Linked DNA regions of Homo sapiens: region 1 is linked to region 2. Evidence: fine-mapped expression QTL. A gene starts in region 2. The other region holds a variant in brackets. All regions are shown on one strand. Distances are between the middles of the regions. Region 1 overlaps PKNOX2 (PBX/knotted 1 homeobox 2). Region 2 holds the start of PKNOX2 (PBX/knotted 1 homeobox 2).

What was found. PIP is the estimated chance that this variant, and not a neighbour inherited with it, causes the effect.
Region 1: its variant is the best candidate, but not a certain one, in a credible set for the expression of PKNOX2 in putamen (GTEx, PIP 0.79).

The regions. Positions count from the first base shown.
Region 1 is chr11:125,237,544-125,242,909 of GRCh38, forward strand. All of the region lies in intron 2 of PKNOX2 (PBX/knotted 1 homeobox 2), which reads left to right. Among named protein-coding and RNA genes, the nearest start is that of PKNOX2-AS1, 27 kb to the right of the region's middle. The variant C/T (reference allele first, on the strand shown) is at 2,727.
Region 2 is chr11:125,162,167-125,167,532 of GRCh38, forward strand. PKNOX2 (PBX/knotted 1 homeobox 2) reads left to right here and starts at 2,585. Exons shown (of 13, transcript NM_001382323.2): 1 at 2,585-2,610. PKNOX2-DT (PKNOX2 divergent transcript) reads right to left here and starts at 2,443. Exons shown (of 3, transcript NR_125759.1): 1 at 2,175-2,443. RefSeq lists a silencer at 2,298-2,447.

The sequences.
Region 1 (5,366 bases), 75 kb after region 2:
AGAATAAAAGGAACCCTTCTTTGGGGGTGATTTGTTCTCCCTAGAAAGACAGGCTAAAGAACCCCCTGCCTTAGATAAATTAAACTGTCCCTTAATTCACAGAATGTTTGAGTCGAAAGGGCCCTCGGAGGCCAGGCAAGGATTCCTTCCTGGGCAGGCCATGCTGGTGTTAATAGGTCCTGCAGCTAGCAGAAACTTCGACCTCAGGGTCGATCTCAACAAGAGTGAGTTGAGTCTGTAACCCACAGCTTCAAGTGTCAGGTCTGGAGGAGTCCTAGACTGTGAGCCAGGACTCCACAAGCCTTGAGCCCTTCACTTACATCCAGGGCTCCCTGGACCTCCATCCCCATGGACTTCTAAGCTGGGGTAGGTTTCACACAAAGATTAGGATTTAAGAAGCTACAAGGGTCTGTGCTGTAGCTGGGGAATTCTGGGCAGCCCTTCCTCCCTGACCTCACGTCCCCTGCTCTCCTTCCTTCCCCTCTGCCACATACTATGTCCTGAGGAGGCTGTGCCCTCCAAGAACTATAGTCTCTTTCCTTTGCCATTTTTCTGACCCGGATGCAGCTAAATCCTGGAAGAGGATCTGAATGTCCTAGGTGCCTTGTTGTGACTTAAGGGGATAGAAAAAAAGCCCAAGCAACCAAAGAGTAGAAACAACCAGCCCGTATCCCCAAAGGGCTGAGAGCTGAGAATGGCTAACACCAAAGGGGAGGGGGCAGGGGCGAGAGGGGTGAGTGGACTTGGTCTTGATAAAAAGTGCTAGAGTTTGGAGGAAGAGTCTTGGATTCTTCCACTTATTGGGCACTTACTACATGCTAGGCATCATGCTAAGCACTTAGGGTGCATTTTCTCACTGAACCCTCACACTATGTTATGGGATGATGTTATTATCTCTATTACAGAAGAGGAGAGGAGGCTTAGAGAGCAAGAGGAATACCCTAGGAAGTAACAGAATTGAAATTCAACTAAGGACTCTCTATTCTTGAGACTTACACTATTTTCTTGTATGACACTCAGTTGACTCCTCTGTAAATGGAAATGTCTGATGGCATCATCCCCAATGCTACTGTCATTTCTAAGATTCTAAATGTGCAGATAAGATTTTGGGAACTTGCTTAGTTATATCTAAATGGGCCTACTTCATGGAGTTGAGTCTAGGTGAAAGTATGGAATGATTTCCTATTCTGTCCCCTTTTGTGAAACTTAGGTCAGGAAACTAACATTTAATTTGGGCACATGAAGGAAACAGATGGACACAAACATAAAGGTCATTTAGATTTTCAAGGCTCCAGCTTGGGAGAAGAATGTTGGATTTGAAGTACAAAGATCAGATTTGAAGCCCAGCCTTGGCACCCCTGTGATCCTGGGCACATCTCTTTGGCCTTTGGCTTCCTCATCTCTGGAATAGAAATGGGGTTGTATATACTTCCCAGGACTGCTATGAGGACTCACTGCGATCCAGCATGTGCAGGTACCTAGAGCCATTCTTGGCACACAATAGGTACTCACTAAGGCTCCAGCCATTCACTCGCCCAGTAAATAAATAAAAAGTGGAGTTGGAAAGAAAGGCTATTCCTTTCCATTGCTTCTGACAGAGACGGTCAAGAATCTTGCCTTTAACTGTACTCTCCATAAAAGTTCACTCATAAACTATTGATATTTTAATAATACACATTAGTGTCTTGCCCTTTGACAAATGAATATTGAATGAGCAATAAAGAGGCAAAACACTAGCCAGGTATACTGCTGCAGAGGAGCTAGGATCCTGGCTGGCTGTCCAAGGGAATGCCCGCTTTCCAGAGACCTTGTAACTCACCCTTCACCCCAGTGACCCCTAAGGAAACAGCTCTCAAAAACAGCTCAGAATCCAGCCAGCCCAGCCTGGCCTGAGTAGGGTTTGTCCTCATTTTTTATTTCAGTTGGCTGGAGGGGACTTGCAAGGAGAGAGAAAAGGTCATTAAAGAACCACTAAAAGGGTGGATGTTTTACCCCATGTGAAACACTTTGGATCTTCCCATTACCTTTGTGAAAGGTGGAGGTTTCTTCTTCACATGCTCTTTCCTCCGTAGATTGCATCTACAGACAGTCAGAGTGCCCGCAAGAAATCAGGCAATGAGCGTAAAAACAACAGACTCGATCCACCCCGCTCGACCAGATCTTGATGGGAACCTATGCTCGAAGGGTGTGTGCTAAGGTTTATAAGGCAGAATTTCCTGCCTCTTCCGGCTTTGCAGCCAGCTCCGTGGCCCCAGCCTCCAGGTTCTCATGGCCTCCATCTAGGCTGGTAGTCCTTGAGTGTGCAGAGAGCAGTGACAGGGGCATTTAGTTGGTCCAGCTTAATTGGTGTGATTTAATGGCATTTCTGGAGGATTCGGATTCAGGCTTTCCGAGCTGCAAATCTGCTTTCTAAATGTAGAATTTTTGTGGAGTGGTAAAAAATAATGGCTGTTCTGTGATTCCTGCCTCCTGAGCTAGGAGATTGCAATTTACATTATGCAAATAGACGTTATGCAATCAAGGCACTTTAGCAGGAATCTGGCGGCAGAGAGGCCGATTGATGAGATGCCGAGGTCTGCAGCCCCAACTGGAGGCGCCCCGGAAGAGTGAGATGGAGTGGGGAGGGGGTGGACCGGGCAGGGGAGGAGGCAAAGAGTCTGTTTCCCTGGCCCAAGGAGGCCGAGTGGAGCCGGCCCAGAGATGAACGCATCTGGGAGCTGCCAAGG[C/T]GACTCTCTCAATTAATGGCTTTGTTTAATCATACCCCCTGTCCAGAAGAGTATTGTCTTACGGATAATTTCGTTTGCCTAACGAGATTTTGCTAATTAAATCTCCTTTCAGTTGGTGTGACTATGCCTGCAGGAGAGGTGGCTATTTGGAGTCTTCTCCATAAACCTTTCTGGAGAGGAGCTGGGAAGGAGGGATGGGAGGGAGGAGAGAGAAGAGGTGGAAAGGGAGAGAGACCCTTTCCCGCTGCAAGCAGGGCAAGAGGCTTTGAGCAGAGTTTGGAAGCTGCAAGGTGGCTGCCACCACCCAAATCGCCTTTCTTCATCCACTGAAATGCAGTTCTAAATCCTTGTCCAGCCTGAAAGGATTTCCCTCTTTTTTCTTTCTCTGTGGTGCCTGTCACTTCCACCATTACCCATTCTCAGATCCTTCTCAAATCCTCAGAGGGAGAACCGGGAGGCTTATAAGAAGGTTCTGAAGGGTTTCCAAGTGCTGCTCCCAGTATCCTTGGCTGTGGGGGGACTAGTGATGGTGTAGGGTCCCCTCCTCTTGCCTTTGCAGTTAGCCAGCCAAGCTGGCTCTTCAGAGAGGAAAAATTGCTCCAAAGCTAGCCATTTCTCCAGGGATAGTTGCATGGATCAAAGAGGAAAATACCTCATTAGACCCATTTATCATCAGAGCTAGCCAAGGAGAGCCTCCCGTATCTGGAGGAGCCTAGCGCTGTGCTTGCGATAGCTGGAGCCTAATTAATGCTGCTGTGATATGCGGCCATGCCATCCCCATGCTGGACCACCTCCAGTGGTTCTTTGCTATCCACAGGTTGAAGTTCAGCTTTCTTGGCCTGGCTGACCATGGGCTTCACGGTTCAACCCTGGTCTACTTTCCTAACTTCATCTCTCACCCTGCAGCTGCTCCCCATCCCTGTAAATACAGACACTCAGATACACAGGCACACTCCTATAGCTGAAACCCCAACTATGCCGGATTGCTCAATCTCCCCCAACAAATACTCTGTGTACTTTTATGCCTCGGTGCCTTTGCACATGCTGCTTATCTGGACTATCCTCAGCCTGGGCGGCCCTTGCTCATTTATCTCCTCTGTGACTTCCTCCTTACAGGCCTTCCCAGCCTCCCCCATCCCTATGCTGCTGCGTTCCTTTGCCTGTAGACCATCACAAGACTCAAACACAATTATTAGTCTATCTATCCATGTAAACCATTGAACCCCATTCTTCTTTCAATCCCAATACCTTGAATCGTTCCTGGTCATAACAGGCACCCTACAAGACTGATTAAGAGAAAGGAGGGGACTGGCGCGGTGGCTCACGCCTGTAATCCCAGCACTTTGGGAGGGCAAGGTGGGCAGATCACGAGGTCAGGAGTTCGAGACCAGACTGACCAACATGGTGAAACCCTGTCTCTACTAAAAATACGAAAATTAGCCAGGCGTAGTGGCGCATGCCTGTAATCCTAGTTACTCAGGAGGCTGAGGCAGGAGAATTGCTTGAACCCAGGAGGTGGAGGTTGCAGTGAGCTGAGATCATGCCACTGCACTCCAGCCTGGGTGACAGAGCAAGACTTCATCAAAAAACAACAACAAAACAAATGAACAAAAAAAGAGAGAGAGAGAGAAAGGATGAAGGATGAATGTATGATTCAAGGTGAAGAGGGTGGAGTGATGGAGAGGTACTCTCCAGTTAAGCCCCCAAGCTCCAGGATGGATGGTGAAGGTGGAGGGGGATGGCGGCGGGGAGCAGGAGACTGATTTCTGCTGACACCATGCACCATGCAGAGGGAGCTGCCTATCCATTCATCACCTTCATTTCACAAGATGAGTAGGGGCACTTCATCTGTGGTTCCCCGTCTATGTGGGGGCCCTGTGCTTGGTGTGTCGCTGTCTCATTTCGCACATGCTCACATGTGAGGTGGGTACTATTTTTGCAGAGGGAACTGAGGCTGGCCTGTTGTCATCGGAGGGCAAGGCAGTGTTGGTCTGTAACGGGGCCCACTGGGGAACCCCAGGAGCATCTCCCTGTAGGGAGGTAAAAGCTCCTATACTTCCCAGTCTCCCCTCTTCATACCCCCACCTGCCCATCCACCCATCCATCCTTACTGGAAGCTAAGCCGCTCTGGGAGTTTGCCCTACTCTCTCTCCCCACGATGCCAGGGTTCATACATGTTCTAGGATGCCTGCATGTACCTGCCTGTGTGTGTCTGCATGTGCTGGGGGCCTGAGTGGTGCACAGGCCCTGAAGGGTGGCCTCTGGTTACTGGTTCTGGACTGCTGCCCAGCTGGTGGGGGGACATCAGGGGTGGAGGAGTCTGCATTCCATGCTGGGGATAGAGCAGCCCAGGGGAAATGGCTCAGGTCTTCCTGTGCAATGCGGGGCAGGGATGGGGGGAGGGCGGGTTGTGTGTGAGTGTGCGAGCGAGGCAGTCTTTCAGGAGAGTGGCGGGTGTGTCCTTCTTGGCTCCTGAGTTTTAGTGCCCTGCTTGTTGTTCTTTGTCGGGGCACGTCTGTCCATGGCCTATCTCTTCATCTAGGCTTGCAATCATCCTCACGTCCCCATCATGCTCTGCTGAGCCTGCAGTGTTTCTAGGTACACAGTAGGTGCTCAACAAATGCTCAGCGAATGCAATGG
Region 2 (5,366 bases):
TGTACATTCCTCTCCATTCTCTTCTTCATCCTCAGAGGGATGATGGGGAAGAAATTGTAGAGTATCTGTAGTGAATTCTTAATTTCTACTCTATCCTTTCTCTACTCATTGACAGAGCCAAAACTGAGATGTGGAACTCATGGAATTTGACATATTGACAACTCATTTCTTCATTAAGTATTTACTAGCTTGTGTCTTCTGTTGATTCCTGTATTATTGCTACTTAATGTTTTACATATTGGCGCTTTGTCTTCTTCAACAAATGAATGCTTCTTGAGGACAGGAGCCATAACCTGAGCCTCTTTGCTTCTGCTCTTTATTCTTAGTGCTAGCACACAGCAGAGCTTCTGGTGGGTGCAGGGAAAATATTTGCCTTCAGTGATTATAAAAACGATGGTTATATTTTGGATAATCATTTTTTAAGCTCTTGCAAATGACAAAAATAGTCAAAGCAAGATATATTTACTTAAAACTACGATGTGCAGTTTAAAGCACCAAAAAGGTATTAGTGAAAATCATAGTATTTGAAGACTCCAAAAATTAATAGCTCATGGCAATGGATCTCCCATATCAGGAAAGTGTTGGGCATTGATCTAGATTTCAGAAAACGAGGGGTGTGACAGGTGTAAATCAGTGATCCAAGGCTGTTGCCTGCGGTCCTATTTATGGCTCACTGACACCTCTCTGATGGGGTGAATTCAGCCTGATTTTCCCCTCTGACTCTGCAGGCTGCAGCAACTCACTGGGAGCCATGGGAAAGAGAGAAACTCCTCCCTCCAGGGGTCCTGGGCAGAGACAAATGGATCTCCCCTCCCCCTCCCTTATCTGAAGAGGGCTTCCCTCTGAGAGTTTATGGCAGCCTGACCTCCAGCCTCTGGGTTGGAGAATCTGGCCGCTTCTGTACCACATAAAAAGGGCAAGTGCATTCATTATTATTATATTATTATACAATGTATAATATATAATAGCGATTATGCTGTCAGCAGCCAGAGACTCTGACTGCAGATCAGAGGCTAGGGTGACATAAATCCACCTAGTGAAGTTTTTGAAGGTTCTATGTGAAGGTGAGAGGATTCTAATCTGTCTATAATGGGGGCTACCACTGAAGAGTTTCTCCCACAAGCAACGTTGGTGGGTGGATTTGAGGGTATTGGGAGGATCTGGACAAACAGTAGTGTGTGTATCTGGGATGTGATATAAGAAGGGTCTCAATTGCCTCCCCTGAGCCAGGCAATGCTAACAGCTCTCATCCTTGCCCATGACGGAGGCGGGTGAGTGGCGACCCAGAGGCCTGAGAAGAGCTCAGGGGCAGCCTTCAACTTCTTGGGTCAGATTCTTTACTGAAAACCCAGAGGCTGGGTTTCACTTTCTGCTTTCCCGCTTTTGTCGGTGTCTTTGTCTGGGCTTCTTCCAGGCCCCCTGCCTGGCCTGGGGTCAGAGGATCAATGGCTGCCTGACTGGCTGAAAGGGCTCCTCTATGGGGAGCAAGAAGCAAACTTCCAGAGGCAGAAGGGGTTCTCTTGTCCCTTTATGCGGAGGGCCATGTGCTAAGTTGAGGAAGCAAGCAAGTGTGCTCCTGTGTGTGGCTCTTAGTAGGACTGTGATCTCTGCTGAGTGAATGGAGGCGCTTGTGGGTCTACACATGCCTGCTTTTGTCTTCCACTGTAGAGGGCATGTAAGGAGCCCATTTCCTCCCTGATGTAGATGAAGCCACCCCAGCAGGCCCAGGCTGAAACAGCCCAGCTGGTCTTTCCCTTTATATGACTGCACCCCAGCCCCCAGAACTCTGGGAACTCACTGAGTTTCTTGAGGACTTTTTATTAGAATGAAAATAGCAGTGGCTTAGAACAGGCTTGCCTGACATTTGCAAAGAAGTGCTTTACTGACAAAGCCTATCCACTCTTTCCTCTCTCCCTCTGCCCCACCTTGAACCAGACACCCCGGGAAGCCCACAGCAGAAAAAGCTCTTGAGACCAGGAATAACTAACCAGAGTGTCATCTGAACACCTTTTCTGGGGCCAGGGTAATGAGAATTATTCAAATGCAATCATAAAAATGAGGCCAGCCAGGCAGGAAAAGGGGGAGGGGGAGTGCTGGTGGAAGGAAGGATTTCTTGCCCGTTTTAAGTTTCATCATTTCTGGGGAGTTCTCTTGGGGTCCACAGAAAATCTCACCTCATCTCGGTCCCCTCAGCACCGGTGATATCTTGGAACTCGGCCCCGGTTGTTCGCTAAGGAGGACTTGGCTTGGGGGCGGGAGGGTGCTCCAGAGTTCCTGGGGGTCCACCGCACTCCCCATCCGAGGCTCCTCGCGAGCGGAGCCGCTTCTCCAGGCCGCCCGCCTCCCTGCCGCAGGAGCAGGCCCGCGCCCGCCGCCCGAGAGCCTCCGGTAGAGGGAGACACTCCAGCGGCTCCTCCGACTTGGCAGCGGCCGGGCCGGGAGTGGGTGGGGGTGATGGGGGGTGGGGAGAAAAGGGGGAGTGGGGAGAGGGGAGGTGTGTGAAGGGGGGGTCCGGGGGGCGGGTCCCTGTGCCGCTGACGTCCCGAGCAGTGCTGGGAAGTATAGGCTGTGTTGTCACGCCGGTGTCAGTCTGATGAAGATTGGCATCAGGTAAGCTGTCATTCATTTCCATGTCAGAGACGCTTTTGCAGGCGGCGGCGGCGGCGCGGCGGCGGCTGCTGCTGCGGGCGGCTGCCTCAGAGCGCGTGTGTTTTATTCCAGTCCCCAAGCCAGAGTATTATTCATTGCGACAGGGCAAGGAGGAGAGAGGGAGAGAGGGAGGCAGCAGGGAGGAGAGAGAGGGAGGCAGCAGGGAGGAGGGAGGCAGGGAGCAGCGAGGGACGGCGGGAGCGTGCAGAGAGAAGCTGGGGAAGCGCCGGGAGAGCGCGGAGCGGAGCAGCGCGAGGGGCGGCGAGGCCGGGCACGGAGGCTGCGAGAGCCCCGCGGGCCGCCCGCTCCCCTGCCCGGCCAGCGCTCAGCCCCGCCGCCGCCGCCGCCGCCGCCTCGCCGCGCTTGGGCCCGTGGCCGGCCGCGCATTGTCCTCGGGTGCAAGGAGCCGGGCTGCGGACTCGAATCGCCGCGGGCCCAACCCCGTAGCGGGCGGGCGGGGAGCTGTGCGCCAGGAGCGCCAGGGGACCCGAGAATAGGAACAGGCACGCCGGCCCGAGCCCGGGTGCAGAAGGCTCCCGGCCGGGCGCTCCGCGGGGAGAGGCTGGGAACCGCGGGCAGGCTCCAGGTTCTCTTTCTCCCGGCTTCGGGCGTCCTTGGGGCCGGCGCTTACTCCGCGCCACCAGCCTGGAGATGCTTTCCAGCGGCTGGAGGCGGGAGCGGTCCCAGGCTGGGGCCAGGTGACCGGAGGAGTCGAGGAGCCGCGGCCGCGGCCTGGGGAGGCAGGGCGAATGAGGGTTTGCAGACGGATCAGTGGAGACAGGGGAACACCGGCGGGGCCCGGGAAGCCAGGATCCGAGGGGCTACACGCACGGACCCTCACCCAGGGAGGAGCGAGAATGTGTAGGGTCACCGGCTTTCCATGATTGCTGGGGATCTTTGGTGAGGCGGGCGTAGGGGCCCGCGCGAGGCTTGGGAATCGGGAGCCCTTCTGGCTCGAGAACTAGGGGATGAGTTCGTAAAAGAGGGAACTGAAAGCGATCGAGAGCGGAGAGCTGAGGGGGATGGCGCAGGATCCCGAATCTGCCGCTCAAAGTTTGCATTTCTTTCGGGTTAGGAGACGGGCTTTCCTGGCTCCCGATCCCCAGGAAGAAACGAGCGAAATGGGCCGTCCTTTCCCGGGGCTCTTCACGGGGGAGCCGGGGGTTTCCGCGCGGTGGGGAGACTCGGGTTGGGAATTGAGGGGTAGGGGCTTGTGGATCGGCCTGAATTAGGGCTGGGTTTTAGGACCAGTCTAGAGTTCGGTTTATAGGATCCAGACTGTTTACGGAATCGGGATCGAGGGGCCGATAAGTAGTTTACACGCCGGCCAGAGCAGAGGGCTGGAGGTCGGAGTTGGGGGCTGGAGGAACGGGTGGCGTTTTTAGGATTCAGTAACAGGATCACAGCTTTTTCTTGTGGTGGAAGCTATTGGAATTTGGGGAGGGTAGCACGAGGGGTCCTGCAGCTCCGCGTGTGAAAAAGCGTTTAGGTAGGCGATGAAAGTAGTTGATCTGAGCCATGGCAGGCGAGCCCCGAATTTTTGCTGCTTCCCCCTGAAAGTGTTTCTTTAGGAGGAGAGGACTTGGGCCACACAGGACCCGGTCCTAAGAGAGCGATTCCGGGAAGCGGACAGATCGAAGAGACCTTCTGGGCGAAGCGGCAGGGCAGCCTCGCGGGGCTGGGAGTGGATCTGAGGTCCCGACCCAGGCGGCTCGGAGTGCTCCAGGAGCCACCTGGGTCTGCGGGCGCAGCGCGGCGGGGCGGGAGCGGTGGCCCGCAGGGGCCGCGGCCTGCGATGAAGGCCGGGGGGCAGCGCTAGCAGCGAGGTGCCACAGTGGGCCGAGGAGTCTGGGCTGTGGCCCAGGGTAGGACCGGCTCAAACTCCAGTGCCCTGATTGGAGCCGCTTCCTGTGCTTACCCGCGCCGGACTGAGAAGCCCACAAACCCGGCCTTTGGTGCGCCCGGGGGAGGAGGAAGCTTGGAGTGCCCTACTGTCATCTCTCCTGTCCGGAGACTTCAGGATATTAGCTTTTCGGGTTTCAAATGCTCTATAACCGGTGGCAGCCAAAAGCTTCGCATTTTAGGCAGTTTAGACGATCCTCCCCGCCCCAAATCTGAGAATGATGGTGTTCAAACATAACACGGTGTATTACCCAAAGCCCCTGCCCTTGCCCTCCTGCTCTCTCTGCCGTTCTGGCCTTCGGAGGCCCCAGGACCTTGGTGGAAGCGGGGAGGGAGGGTCCCGTTTCTGGTCTCATAATCTCCCACTCGGGCTGCATCCCCATAGCTTGGGCCTAGCTGTGGGGTGTGGGGTGGGAAGGGGTCCCGACCAGGGAGGTAGGTTATTCTCTGGGCATCTAGAGAAAGAGTGTGTGTGGGGGGTGGGAGCGGGGGGGAGGAGGGCATTGAGGGGAGGAAGATTTGAGATTTCCTCCTCTTAATATTAAACCCACCATCCCAGCCCCCTGCACCCCTGGCAGGGAGAGCCAGACAGCCCTTACAGGACACGGAAGACGCACGACCCACGACCCACGAGTGGCCTCGGCGGCCCGGGGCGCGGCGACTGCCGCCGCGGAGCTCCAAGGCTGTTGTTTTGTAGGCTTGGAATTCGTGAGAGCTCTCTCCCGCTGAGAGCCCGAGGGGGGAGGGAGCCGTGACCCCACGGAGACTCCCTGGTCACCGCCTCCCCTTTGTGAGCGGGAAAGGCTTGAAAGCCA